Regions from separate parts of the Homo sapiens genome. Here regions 1 and 2 are each linked to region 3. The links come from fine-mapping of genetic effects on gene expression. A gene starts in region 3. Each other region holds a variant in brackets. All regions are shown on one strand. Distances are between the middles of the regions.

Evidence for each region. PIP is the estimated chance that this variant, and not a neighbour inherited with it, causes the effect.
Region 1: its variant is the best candidate, but not a certain one, in a credible set for the expression of SPON2 in whole blood (TOPMed, PIP 0.81).
Region 2: its variant is the best candidate, but not a certain one, in a credible set for the expression of SPON2 in lung (TOPMed, PIP 0.88).

The regions. Positions count from the first base shown.
Region 1 is chr4:957,574-960,321 of GRCh38, forward strand. It overlaps TMEM175 (transmembrane protein 175), which reads left to right. Exons shown (of 11, transcript NM_032326.4): 11 at 251-1,083. The coding sequence ends at 923. It overlaps DGKQ (diacylglycerol kinase theta), which reads right to left. Exons shown (of 23, transcript NM_001347.4): 23 at 1,314-2,748. Among named protein-coding and RNA genes, the nearest start is that of DGKQ, 15 kb to the right of the region's middle. The variant C/T (reference allele first, on the strand shown) is at 1,499.
Region 2 is chr4:1,238,393-1,241,140 of GRCh38, forward strand. The region is part of intron 2 of CTBP1 (C-terminal binding protein 1); the gene reads right to left. Among named protein-coding and RNA genes, the nearest start is that of CTBP1, 9.4 kb to the right of the region's middle. RefSeq lists an enhancer at 1,584-2,084. The variant C/G (reference allele first, on the strand shown) is at 1,033.
Region 3 is chr4:1,170,975-1,173,722 of GRCh38, forward strand. It overlaps SPON2 (spondin 2), which reads right to left and starts at 1,609. Exons shown (of 6, transcript NM_012445.4): 1 at 1,570-1,609; 2 at 878-1,100; 3 at 289-512; 4 at 25-216. The coding sequence starts at 1,097. The region is part of intron 1 of LOC124900647 (nascent polypeptide-associated complex subunit alpha, muscle-specific form-like); the gene reads left to right. RefSeq lists enhancers at 789-1,504, 1,505-2,222.

The DNA of each region.
Region 1 (2,748 bases), 210 kb before region 3:
GGTTGGGCTCCCATTAGCACAGAGCAGAAGGGTGCCAGTTTCTATGGAATTTCAGATGAACAGCACGTAACAGTCAGTGTGCCAAATACACATAAATACGGCGTTCTGAAATTTAGCACACTGGGAAGTCCACATGGTTCATCTGAAAACGTGCCAGATCCAGGCAGCCCTGACAGGCGCTCAGCCACCCTGCTGGGGCCTGTGTGGCCACGGCAAGGCCGGCACAAATGCATCTATTCACTGTTCTCAGCGAAGACAACGTCCCGGACCCCAAGGATGTGAAGGAGAGGTTCAGCGGCAGCCTCGTGGCCGCCCTGAGTGCGACCGGGCCGCGCTTCCTGGCGTACTTCGGCTCCTTCGCCACAGTGGGACTGCTGTGGTTCGCCCACCACTCACTCTTCCTGCATGTGCGCAAGGCCACGCGGGCCATGGGGCTGCTGAACACGCTCTCGCTGGCCTTCGTGGGTGGCCTCCCACTAGCCTACCAGCAGACCTCGGCCTTCGCCCGGCAGCCCCGCGATGAGCTGGAGCGCGTGCGTGTCAGCTGCACCATCATCTTCCTGGCCAGCATCTTCCAGCTGGCCATGTGGACCACGGCGCTGCTGCACCAGGCGGAGACGCTGCAGCCCTCGGTGTGGTTTGGCGGCCGGGAGCATGTGCTCATGTTCGCCAAGCTGGCGCTGTACCCCTGTGCCAGCCTGCTGGCCTTCGCCTCCACCTGCCTGCTGAGCAGGTTCAGTGTGGGCATCTTCCACCTCATGCAGATCGCCGTGCCCTGCGCCTTCCTGTTGCTGCGCCTGCTCGTGGGCCTGGCCCTGGCCACCCTGCGGGTCCTGCGGGGCCTCGCCCGGCCCGAACACCCCCCGCCAGCCCCCACGGGCCAGGACGACCCACAGTCCCAGCTCCTCCCTGCCCCCTGCTAGCAGCCACAGAGCCCACTCCCAGCCGTCCTCACCAGAGATGGACCAGGGAGGACAGGATGCTGGGCAGGGGAAGCCAAGTCACGGGCAGGCCGCAGTGGTTCTTGCGTGGCCTGGTTTTATTTTCATTGTGAAATATCATGCTCTTATTTCAGTCCTCAAATTGTTCTCCACTTTTTGCGGAGAGAGGAGTTTCACAGGAACTGGAAATGTGCTTTATGGCATTTGCCTATCCACTCTCTCCAACCTGAAGACACGTTGCCAAGCTCACCTACCCGAGGGGCAGCCCACTCCCAGCCCCTTTGAGGCCTATACAGAGCTGGTGGGGTCGGGGGTGCCAAGCCAGGCCCTCCCCTCCCCTCGGTTGTTGACACAAAGATGAGGAAGAGATGGTAGGATAGTGACGCCCAGACTGTATTTGTCCTGGATATAAATTACTGTTGCATTCAGGCAGCGATAAATACAGAGGGGCCCGGTGTGCAGGGCACAGACCCCACCTGGGTACAGACTCACATACAGGACAAGCCCCTCACCACAGTTACACACGATTCATACAGACCACAGTCCACACCAGGGCT[C/T]GCGAAGCAAAACTAATCACAAAGGACTGGTCTTGAAGATGACAATGACGTAAACAAGAGTGCACGCTGGAGGCCACAAGCGGCCTTACAATGCGTGTGTCTGTGCAGTTTGGCAGATGCGGGGGGTCGGGGGATTAGTGGCATCAAGGGCCCCCCAGGAGGCTGCAGCAGGCTGGGCCAGGCCACACTCCTGAGGCCAAACCAGAGCCACTTCTGAGGTCAAAGCCACACCCAGGAAAGCTCCGCAGGATTGGAGGCCCAGGCCAGCTGTGCCCCACAAGGGAAGGGGGAGATCCGCACCGTGGGACCGTTTCTCGTGGGGGAGTCGGGGCTTCCCCACAGAGCGGGCTCCATTTTTGGTCAGACTCCTCCCGGGGCCAGTGCACCATCTGAATCCTTGGGCACGTGGAGGCAGCTTTGTCTTTGGCTGGGTGCACCCCAGCCTGGCCCAGATGCAGGACCCTCCACCAAGCTGTCTGGGGGCGTGGGAGCAGGAGGGCTGCAGGAGCTGGGTCTCCACACGCTGACGAGGGATAGGACTGAGCAGATGTCGGCTCACACAGGCACTGGGAACTGCACATCAACAGCGGGCAAGCAGCGTGGAAAGTGCTAGCGTGGGGTCTGGGGCTGAAAGCCAGCTCCTCCTCCACGTGCATGGGCTGTTTACACCTCCCAAACTCCTCTGCACCGCCATGCCCTGCTTTTGGTCCCTTCTGGGTGCTAAGTGCCCCACCCTGAGGGCCGAGGGGCAGACACTCGGGCCCGGCCCACACTCTGGTGCTGCCAGGGCAGCACCTGAGACCTCCTAGCCTCCACGTGGACAGAGGTTCTCCTCCCCAAGCAGAGGCACTAGGAAAGGGCCACCAGGTCCAGCTGGGCACTGCCTGCCCCTGGAGCTGTACCTGAGATCCAAGCTGCCATCTGTATATAACAAGGCCAGAAAACAAGGGAAGGCACCTTCTCCCTTCCCTGAACACAAGGAAGTCACCAGTCACCACCACCCGGCAGCCTCACACGCTGCCCACACCTGCTGCCCAGGGCGGGGAGGTGAGGCTGGAGGGACTGGCAGCCTGTGTCTGCTGGGGCAGGGACACACCAGGGAGCCTGCTGCTCTTAAGGACTGGCCAGGGGGACGGCCCGAGGGGCACAAAGTGAGATCAGACCCACCTGGACGGCCTGCATCCAGCACTGTCCAGCTCAAGGGGCTCAGTGGGGAGAGGGATGGGTGCCCACCCCTGAGGAGAGGACCA
Region 2 (2,748 bases), 67 kb after region 3:
CCCACTCCACGCCACCCACTGTGCACGGGCCAACGAGGGCCGACCGCCGGGGGTTTTCTGGTCTATATGTTGTGATATTTGTAAAAAGTAAATTAAAAATCCACGTGAAAGACAACTCGTGTGTGCCTCAGCTCGCTGACTCAAGTGGACACAGACTGTGGACACCCACTACCATCTCCCTTGGGCACAGGACCTCCGAGACCCTCCAAGTCCCCTCCGAGACCCTCCAAGGCCCCTCCGAGATCCTCCCAGACCCTCTGAGACCCTCTCACACCCTCCAAGACCCTCCGAGACCCCCCAAGAAATCTCCAGACCCTCTGAGAACCTCCCAGACCCTCTGAGACTCCCCAAGACATTTCCAGACCCACCGAGACACCTCCCGACCCTCCTAGGCCCTCCAAGACCCTCTGAGACCCCCCGAGACCCTCCCAGACCGTCCGAGACCCCAGGGCAGCTCCATGAGGCAGGGGGACAGGAGGGACCCAGGACACTGGAGGACACAAGATGACAGCACGGGACTTTGGGAACATGGTTGTCCCTTTCCTGCCTGGGCTACCGCGTGGCTGCCCGGAATCCCTGATGGGGTCACCAGTGTTTCACGTAGGACGCCCCCAACCCTCTGCCTGGCATTACTTCCAATTATAGATGTGAAGAGAAAAGAAACAGAACAAAGGAAGAAAAGGGTTAAAACCTGTTAAAGTCCACTCTGTGCCCCTGACCTTCCCAGAACCAGATGATTAAAGCTCATTAACACCCATTCCTTTCGCGTATGACGCAACTAAGCCTCATCGGGGCCAACTGGAGAAATAAGGGCTCTGAGGCGTCACAGAAGCATGGCAGCTTCCAGGCACCGCCCGACCGCCCCGTGCCAGGCAGGGAGCACCAGGTGGGGCCACTGTCAGCCCCACGGCAGCTGGGCAGAGGCGGAGCTGGGGCCAGGGCCCAGCCGGTCCCTCCCCTCCTCCTCCAAAGACCGGCCACAGGAGACCAAGCAGTACCCAGGACCGTTCGGCCAGCAGGAGGGGAGGCGCA[C/G]GACAGAACCAAGGAGCAGAGTGACCCAGCAGGCTCTCCAGTGGCCGCGGCCACAAGCACGCTCGGCCCAGTCTCCCGCCCCATCCGCTGCCCCATCCGCCTGCAGGTGAGCAGAGGCCACCGAGCTGCCAGTATCCAGGAAGCAGGGAAGTGCCTCCTGGAACCCATGGCAGAGAAAAGAAATGCTCTGGTGGACAGCCCAGGGGTGCAGTGGGCCTGCAGCACACGCCTGCAGGGGACGGGGCATGGGTCTCCACTGACCACCCCAAAGCCGAGGGCTCCCAGTACGGCTGGGCCCATGCCCCTCCCGTGAGGTCCTCGCGCCCTGGCGTCCTCGGAGGAGCCACTGGCCATTCCACCCACTTTCCTTCAAGATAGGAAACCAGATCCCAAACGTGAGGTCTGCACGGTCAAAACCGCGTCCTGGTTCGCCTGTTCCTTCATTCCCTCTGGACGGGAGCTGCCCACGAGCACCATAGACAGGCCGCCCAGTGACACTGTACATGGCCTCCCTCTGCACGTGGCCTCCCTCCCCGCTGTGTGTGGTGGTGATGACTTCTCATGAGCAGAAAGGTTTATGTTGCTGTTTCTGAGTGAGTGGATAGACATCCGCTCTCAGTATCCTTGGATTTCACTTCTGATGAGGAAGGCATGGACACACGGGATCACTGCAGACCGCTCGGCTGCGTCAGAACCGCCTGGGGGGACTCCTGGGTGCTGGGTGAGTGGGAACCGGGTCCCTCGTCAGAACCGCGTGGGGGACTCCCGGGTGCTGGGTGAGTGGGAACCGGGTCCCTCGTCGGAACCGTGTGGGGCACTCCCGGGTGCTGGGTGAGTGGGACCGGGTCCCTCGTCGGAACCGCCTGGGGGGACTCCCGGGTGCTGGGTGAGTGGGAACCGGGTCCCTCGTCGGAACCGCGTGGGGGACTCCCGGGTGCTGGGTGAGTGGGAACCGGGTCCCTCGTCGGAACCGCGTGGGGGACTCCCGGGTGCTGGGTGAGTGGGAACCGGGTCCCTCGTCGGAACCGCGTGGGGGACTCCCGGGTGCTGGGTGAGTGGGAACCGGGTCCCTCGTCGGAACCGCGTGGGGGACTCCCGGGTGCTGGGTGAGTGGGAACCGGGTCCCTCGTCGGAACCGCGTGGGGGACTCCCGGGTGCTGGGTGAGTGGGAACCGGGTCCCTCGTCGGAACCGCGTGGGGGACTCCCGGGTGCTGGGTGAGTGGGAACCGGGTCCCTCAGCTGAACGGTGGGGAGGGGGGAGCAGGTGGAGACACCAAGCCCCATCAGGCTCAGGCACCCAAGGTGCCTCCTCACATCACCCATGAGCTGCCCCTGACCACCGTGCCAGGGTTCCCCGGACAGCCCACCCTTGCAGGCTTGGGGACACACCCAGGAGGCTTCACAGTCACACGGCCTGTGCTGAAGCAGGCTTTGCAGCATCCCCCAAGCCCAAGGCTGTTTCCGACTGCACGCACTTCCGGGCCAGAGAGCGCAGACCAACCACAAGGAACAGCTCCACAGGGGCCACGGCCCTGCTCCTGGGCCAGCCGGGTGGACACCTGAGATTTCCAGGGTTCCGTGTGGGGCTCCACCCTCGTGCTGGCGGCCTCCACATGGAGGCCCTCCGTGCCTCTCAGACACTTTCCGACAGAAACAGACAGCAGATGCCACGGACAGGCCTGACCACAGCTGTGCTCTGCCACCAGGTGTGCAGG
Region 3 (2,748 bases):
TGCGCACGCGGGGTGCCCACTCACCTCGGTCACCGTGTCCTGCGGGATGGTGGCGAAGTTGGGGGAGGAGAAGGTGAAGCCGCTGTCCGTCCCGGCGTCGTAGGGGTACAGGTCCAGCGCCGCCTGTTCCCGCCAACGGTCCCCGTCGCACAGGTCCAGGCTGTCCACGCCCACGAACCAGTCGGGGCTGGGCACGATGCGCACCACAAACGAGACCTGCGGCGACAGCGGCTCAGCGCGCCTGGCCCCGGCCCCCCGGACCCCGCCCCCGGCCGGCCCCGCGCTCACCAGCGAGTGCCTGCGCTGCACCTCCAGCTCCGCCGACGTCTGCCCGGTGCCGCTGGGGACGGCGGGCGCCGAAAACACCGCGTGCACGCTCTGCAGCGCCTCCCCCGCCGCCTCGATCTCCTTCATCAGCGCCCAGGCCTCGCCGCGCTCCGCAAAGTCGCGCAGCCCGTTACTGACGTACTGGTTCTTCCTCCACATGCTGTAGTCGGAGCTATGCGCGGCCCCTGCAGGACCACCCGGCCGCGCCGCGGACCATGGTCAGACACTGCGGTCGGGCTTGGATTCCAGGGGGCGCCCCAGGAAATCCCTCCCCGCCGCCCGCAGGGAACCATGGCCCCCAGTCACGTCGGACCGTGACACCCTGTGGCTGCCCCTGCCGCGACCCACCTGCGCCCTCCCCGTGAGCGCCCCCTGCCCCCACCGCATCCCCGGAACCGCACACCGCAGGCGCTCGGCAAACATTCTGGTGTTAGAGTCTCCCGACGTCAGCACGCCCCAGACTGGGAAGCGCCGCCGTGCAGCTGTGCGGGGGGCTCCGGCGCCGCAGCCCTCCTGGTGGAGCAGGAGGCGAGGAGGGGGCTGTACTTACCCAGCAGCGAAGACCACTGCGCAGGGGGGCGGAACAGGGGGTACTGCTTGGGGAAGGCCGTCTGGCTCCACTTGCCCGTGAAGGTGATGCTGTATTTGGCCAGGGCTCTGGCGGAACAGATGGACTCTCCCCCAAGAGGCTGGCCGGCGGCGCCGAGAGTGGCCAGGAGGAGAGCGCAGAGGGCCTTGCCCAGGGCGGCGGCCGGGCTGGGGTTTTCCATCACCTGGGAGCACAGAGGGGAGCAGCCGCGCGCTGGCACCGTCGTGGCAGCCTCGGGGTGGAAAGCCGAGAGGGCTGCGGCACTTTGGGCTCTGAGGACGGCCCCGAGCACCCGCGACCCCCTCCCTGCTCCGCAAAGCTCTCCTGCGGTGCTTCCGAGACCCCCATCAGCGGAATGGACGGCGCGGGGTTAGATCGCCCGTGCGCCTGCGAGCGACCAGGGGTAACGGGCAGGTTTTCAGTCCGAGTCCCTGCAGCTTGCCGGGCCGGTCTGGGTGCGGCCTCCGGGATGCCTTCGCCGTCGCAGGGACCCGGGGCCTTGGCCGACTGGCTGCCCCCGGGACTAGACCCTTAAAGCTCGGTCGCAGCCAGTCCTGGGGGTCCCTCTGGAGGTGCCACAAGGTTCTGGGCCGCGGGGAAAGTGCAGGAGGCCCGGGCCCTCTCTGGGTGTCCCGGGGGCACGCAGTACTCACCCGGCAGGAGCAGCGGGAGCGCGGCCGGCAGCGGTCGGGTCCCAGCCAGAGCCCGGAGCTCCTATTTAAGCCCGAGGCCGGCGCCCCGGGCCGGCCAATGAGGCTCCAGTTCCTCCTGTCTTCGATGCTGCACGGCCTGGCCTCCAGCGAGAGGCAGATAGGACGTGGGAGAAAGGAGGAGAAGGGGCTGCGGGGGCGGCGGGGGCTGCCGCTTTCCCAACTCGCCCTGCCCAGCGACCTTCCCCGGGTCGGATCACCCTCTTCCCCTGGCAGTGCTGCCGCACCCCTTTCTTTGTCTGTCTGTCCTATCCCTCCCCTCCCCTCCCTGTCCCCTCCCTTCCCCTCCCCTCCCCTCCTCCCCTCCCCTCCTCCCCTCCCCTCCTCCCCTCCCCCCTGTCCTCCTCCCTCTCCCCGTTTCTCTCCCGTTCCAACAAGCGCCTTCCTGGTGCCTCCCTAGGTGCCACTGAGGGGAGTTCTTTGCCCCAAGCCTTTCGGGAAAGCTCAGGGCGTGGGGGCAGAGGGGCTCTTGTTTTCACCTTCTCGAAATTAGAGCCAGCGTGCTACACCTTCTTGCGCAGGGTGTGACCTGGAGAGCCCTGTGCGTGGCCTGACTTCAGTCTACATGCTGGAAGTGGCTGGGGAAGCTCCTGGCTCCCGGCGCAGGCATCCCTGGCCTTTGGGGCCCTGGCTTTAAGTCTCTTTCCTGGCATGGCCTAAAGCTGCACAGAACAGCCTAGCGGTCTGCACTGTGGCCAGAGGGCATTTGCAAGCCATCCCTCCTGGAGGGAGGTCAGAGTGGGCTGAGGGTCTGGGGTGGAACGCGCAGGGAGTCAGGAAGAGCCACAGAAAGGGGGCCCCCCTCCCCAGGACCCCGCACAGGGCTGGGGCTGCAGGCCGGCGGTGTGTGCGGTGCAGAGCCCTCCCAGGGGCTCTAGGCTTCCCTGCCTTTGGGATGAAGCTAACAGATGCTGAAGTTGATCCTGCTCCATGTCAGGAAAATATTTATAGGTCCCCAGTCATGGGATCTGGAAACAGAGCGGAGGAAGGAGCTCGGGAATGGTCTTGCTCAATCCTTCCCGGCCTCTGCTCATCGGAATCACCCAGAGGGCTTTTAAGCTTAGACAAAACACTCTGATGTTTGGAACCCTGTTAATGTTTCACAGATTCAAAAAGAGAGAA